Regions from separate parts of the Homo sapiens genome. Here region 1 is linked to region 2. A link means that fine-mapping ties the variant in region 2 to the expression of a gene that starts in the linked region. Tissue or cell type: whole blood. Region 2 holds a variant in brackets; the other region holds the start of a gene. All regions are shown on one strand. Distances are from middle to middle.

Region 1 (2,720 bases), 21 kb after region 2:
GTAAGTAAAAATAAATTTGAAAAAGATCTTCAAACAATGATCTTTTTAAAACTATCGTGTTATCAGATTAAAATGAAGTGTACTTGTAAACACTGCATTTACAGTGCCCGTTATATGCCAAGCACTTTGCCTGGACTTTATATGCATGGTCTGTGAGAGGCAGTATGGTGCAGTGGTTAGGCACTCTGGCTCTGGGCTCCAACAAACCTAATCACCCTGCTTACTTTTGTTGTGAATTTGGGCAATTTCTCAAGTTCACTGAGCTTCAGTTTTCTCAGGTGCAAAAGGAAATAGTAATGCCTGCTTTAAAGGTTTATGGTGGTGATTGAAGGAGACAATATGTACAAAGCAGTTAACATCGTGTCTGCAACATAATAAGGGCCCAGTGCCCAAATTGCCACCACTATTATTATATCACATTTAACTCTCACATCAACCTTTCAGGGAAGACCTGACCACCTCTGCACTAAAGTAGCTTGTAACTCTGATAGGTAGGTAGGTAGGTAGGTAGATAGATAGATAGATAGATAGATATAGATAGATAGATAAAGATTTATAAATGAAAGTGCATATGCAAGTAGAAAAAAAAGTCTAAAGACATGGCAGTGTTTTCTTTCCTCCACAGGTCATTTTATAAGTTAGATTTGCTCTAGAAATTATTACTTTGTTTTATGCCATTTGGACATTTATTTATTTAACCAACACTTATGTGATCACAACATACTCAGGACTGTTCTAAGTAAGCACTTTAGAAATATGAGCATATCTAACTCAGGGTTTTCTTTCCCTTCCTTTGTGATTTTCAAATAAACTTTTTAATAAAGTCTAATACACATACAGAAAAGTGCATATATTGGGTGCTACAGCTCGCTTCTTCCTTTCTTTTGAACCCAATAGTTTAATCAATAACCACCCAGGTCACAGCCACACCATATACTGCCAGACAGGTAAACCCAACCCATCTGTCCCTCACTGCCTCTGGCCTCCTGCCTGGTTCTCAATGGTGGCAGAGGAAGTGCTACTCAGTGCCTGCTGACCAGGCTTGCCACACCCAGAGCCCGGCTGGCCAAGGCTCTGCCACAGGTGGCAGCTTCTCCCTAACCTGCTTACCAAGGCCACCTGCCAGCTGTGTGTGCACAGCTATTTTCCATGGGGGAAAAAGCATCTAGATTCCTTTCTTCCTTTCAATCTGGATGCATTAGGGTTTCTAGATGCTCTCAGATGGCCCCCCACCTCCCCAGCCAGAGTATATATCCACCTTTTAACCAAGGATATAAAAAGCCCTCTGAATCTCCAGTCAATTCCAACACAAATGCACCATCTCTCCTGCAATCCTTTTCATTTGCGGCTTGCAGGGGGTGGGAAATTAGGCAATTCTTGTAAAGCATAGGCACACATCACCCAGAGGCACAGTTTGCCAATAAAACTCACCCGGCCAAACAGCGTAACCCCTTCTTCCAAGCAGATTTCTTTGCAGCCAAATGCAAGGGATGTTAAGGCAAGACCCTCCCCACAGGGCAGTCAGAGACCCGCAGCCGACAGACTAAGCCTGCAGCTTCCAACCAGGCTCCCCGAGATGTTCCCTGGTGGTGCTCCCTGTAACTGAAGCCAGACCAGGCGTCTTTCCAGTTTATTCAGGGGCTGGTCCAATGCTGGGATATGTCATGGTGGCCTGAGAGGTTCTCAGCCTCTATTATTTAAAGAGACAGTGTCCAACTTTGTTTGCTTTCCAGAATACAATAATCCCAAGAGGCCCTGCAGGGCATGGAGAAACTGGAATCAGAAGGGAGAAGAGCTTTGAGTATGCCTGAAGCCTGTGATGCCAAGACTGTTCTCTCTGGAAGTGCCAACCTGTGTAATAGCCAAGAGGTCCCACTGGCTCCCCTCCCCTCCCAGTGAATTCTGCAGAGATTAAATATACTGTGGGAAGGATCTGTGTCTACAGTGTTACATACGTGCAGGTAAGTTTTATTTTAAATAAACTTCCTTTTAAGGAGCCCAAACATTGCACAGCTAATCTCTCACAGCATCACAGCAGTGAGCCAAATGTCTCAAGAGTCACCAAATCAAGCCTCCTTTGTTCCAACCCCTGGTTGGAAGGACTCCCTGTTACCTGCCTTGTCTGCCTAGACCCCATCGCAAATGATCACATGTGTTGTACATTAGAATAAAACTTAGGGAAATGTGTTCTTCCGACTCTGTCTTTAATGTGCCCGAATCAAGCTGACCTTCATGAGATAATTCAATGCAAGTAAACGAACCTCTATTGAAAACTATTGAAAACTTTCTAACCTGTCAGGCAGAATAGGCTGGAAGAGCAATTGGAAATTCTTGGAGAGGGAAGTAAAGGAAGTTATGGCATATTTAGGTTCTTTGCAGCGTACCACTCCAGCTCCCAGAGAGTCCTCCATCCCTTGAACCGCTTCTAGCTGCAAACTCTGACACAAGAGGACTGGTTTCATTGCATGAGTTTCCTGGAATTCTGGCACTTGGGGCATAAGACTTCCTCTTGTGTTAGGGATCCCCAGTCTGGAGAGACCTGCAGAATTTGGAGGAGTCCCTCCCTGTCACACACTTTACGTTTGATTGGACTCTCCAGTCACAAGGGCCTCTCAATGGCCCTCTCCCCTGTTCTGCCCACAGCCAGCATCTGCTCACAGCCAGCATCACAGCCAGTGCCAATAAAATAGTTTCACCTTTCTCTCTTTGCTGAAATCATT
Region 2 (3,046 bases):
TGCCAAAACCCCATCTCTACGAAAAATACAAAAAAATTGGCCAGGTGTGCTGGTGGACACCTATAGTCCCAGCTACTTGGGAGGTTGAGGCAGAGAATCGCTTGAACTCAGGAGGTGGAGGTTGTAGTGAGCCAAGATCACACCACTGCACTCCAGCCTGGGCACAGAGAGAGACTCTGTCTCAAAAAAAAAAAAAAAAAAAAAAAAGAGAGACATTGTAGCTATATTCTAATATAATAGATACACCTAAAACAAGCAACAGTCAAAAACAAAAAAGATTCTGAAAAGAAGCTTCAGGCAAATGTTAACAAAAAAGAAAGAAGATAAATTAATAATAAAAAATAGAACTTATGTTGAAAGGATAAAAGTGGCCAGAGAGTTGTTTGGTTGTTTCATAGAGGAAAGATTTGGTTTATTTGATCTTTACTTCTGGTTTACATGATCTATGACTGAAGAAAATAAATCATTATGCATATAATAACATGGCCTGAAAAAGTTAAAATCAAAAAGTAATCAAAATATGAGAAGAAATTGTTAAAATCACAATAACAGTAGAAGACTTTAGCTTCCTTCCTCAAAATAGATGTCAGGTAGACCAAAAAGAAGAAAGAATATAGATTACATAAGAGGATTAACAAATCTGTCCTAATAGATGTATAGAAAACTTGTGTCTATATAGCAAAGTTATTTTCAAACACACATGGGACAGCTTTTCAAACTGACTATAAGGGCAACAAAGAATATCTCAATAAATATAGAAGCAGAAATGATGTAGGCTCAACATATACCTAAAGGCAAACAGAAATTAGACATTAAAAACAAACTAGCCAAAATAAATTTGGAAATTTAAAAACAGTGTTCCAGATAATTCCTCGGATTAAAAAAAACAAGATGAAAAGTAAAAACTTCTTCAGCAAGGAATTATATAGAGAGCCACATGGCACACCTGTGGGTTGTAACCAAAGCAGTTCTCAGAGGACAATGTATACACTTCTAAGCATTTGCTAGAAAAATCCTTAAAAAGAGTGAACTACACTTTCAACTCAAGAAGCCAGAAAAAAAACAATGAAATAAGTCCAAAAATTAATTGACTTAATATGGATAAAAGCACAGACTAATGAGACAGAAAAAAATATTAAAATACATTTAATAAAAATGTCTGGTTCTTTGGGGATACATCAACAAGTTAGACAAATTTTATTCAAGTACATAAAAGAAGTACTAAAGAAACATACTAAGTTCCTGGATAGAAACACTCAAAGTTATAAAGATGCCAATTTCATCCAAAATAATCTACAAATTCAATGCTGTCCTAATCCATATTGCAACTGGAACTGGAAAAAAATCAATTAAAAATTCATCTAAAAAACAATGAGCAATGACAGATAAGAAAAAATTTGAAGTAAACACAACAGCAACTAAAAACCAAAACGAACAAATGAACAAAAAGAAAATCAGAAAAACATATAAAACCAATGAGTCAAGATACCACCTACCAGATTTAAAACATATTTCTATATTTTGCTTATTACAGTATATGGTATAAATTAAATATACAATTAATTGTAACTTTATAATATATAATTATAGAACATATCATAGAACTATGATATATACAATATATAATTATAGAACATATCATAGAAGTATGATATATAATTATATAATATATAATTATAGAAGTATATATGTTCAAGTGCTTATATTATAATTATATAACATATAATTATAATTAATAAAA[T/C]GTATTTTATTTATAGACATACAAAGCTTATATTTATATTATAAAGTTTTAGCAATTCAAAAATATGGTGTTAATCATGAAAGAAAAATAAAAGAATGGGATGGAATAAGACTTTGGAAGCATACATGTAAATTTGGTAGATAATACACAACATCATATAAACCAGTGGGGAAAAATACAACAGACAATACATAGTGTTGGCTATTCATTTGGTAAAACATAAAATTAAATCTCTAGTTCGCATCATTAACAAAATTAAATTACAGACAGAACAAAGAGAAAACAGCTAAGTATAAAATTGAAAAGCCATGTGATTAGCAAAGGAGAAATATGAACAGCCAATAAACATCGTAAAAGGTGCCCAACCTCACTAGCAACCAAGGAAATGCAAGAGAAACCCATGAGGAGGGTGACACCAATTTTCATCCAGCCAATAGGCAAAATTCAAAAAAAATGGATAATATCAGCAGAACAAATAAGTGATAGCTACCTGCAGACACCATTCACAGGAATAATAATAATATTATTATTATAATCCTTTTGTGACCAGCCATTTTGTGGCAGAATATATTAGGTTGATACAAAAGTAATTGTAATTTTTGCCATTAAAAGTAGTTTAAAAATTGTAACACCTCTAGCGTAATGACACTATATGTGTTCAAGTGCTTATCTACTATATCCTGGAAAAACAGTGAACATATACTCAGAGGAAAATAAATAAGGACATTGATTGTAGCATTTCTATGAGGGAAAATAAATTATGGTATATCCTCACAATGAAATATTTTGCAGCAGTTAAAAAAATCATGAGTTAGAAAATGAAGAGTCTTTGAAAGGTCTCCAAGACAATGAAAAGAGTAAGGTGCACACACAACATGTCATCATTATGAAAACAAACACCAAAAAACTATGTAATTGCGTATAGACATCCACAGGCATGCAAATATTCGTAGAGAAAGAGCCAAAGTTGTGTCAAATTGATGTCAGTGGGTTCCCCCAGGAACTACTGTTGCAACGAAGAAGAGTTTGGTCAAGAAGCCTTTCAGTTGAGGATATTTTCATGTATTATAATACTTGTATTACTTAAATAATTAAAACCAATTTAAAAGATTACAAAGGTAAAAACAGATGCAGCACTCTATTGACTTACTAAGAGTCAGGATTCCAAAACTCAAAGGGCTAGTGGAATTCTGGGCAGGACTGGGCTTCCACATGCCCAGGAAAACAACAAGGGATTTTCCTTTCCTCCAGTGCCATTGATCAAAAGCTACACAAGGACAGCGAGAGGAAAAAAAACAGAGCCCA

Evidence for each region.
Region 1: it holds the start of PMP22, and the variant in region 2 is fine-mapped to the expression of PMP22 in whole blood (INTERVAL, PIP 0.97).

Annotation. Positions count from the first base shown.
Region 1 is chr17:15,263,723-15,266,442 of GRCh38, forward strand. It overlaps PMP22 (peripheral myelin protein 22), which reads right to left and starts at 1,604. Exons shown (of 5, transcript NM_000304.4): 1 at 1,432-1,604. LOC124903931 (a long non-coding RNA gene) reads left to right here. Exons shown (of 2, transcript XR_007065632.1): 2 at 1,734-2,187.
Region 2 is chr17:15,242,069-15,245,114 of GRCh38, forward strand. The region is part of intron 3 of PMP22 (peripheral myelin protein 22); the gene reads right to left. Among named protein-coding and RNA genes, the nearest start is that of MIR4731, 8.1 kb to the right of the region's middle. The variant T/C (reference allele first, on the strand shown) is at 1,742.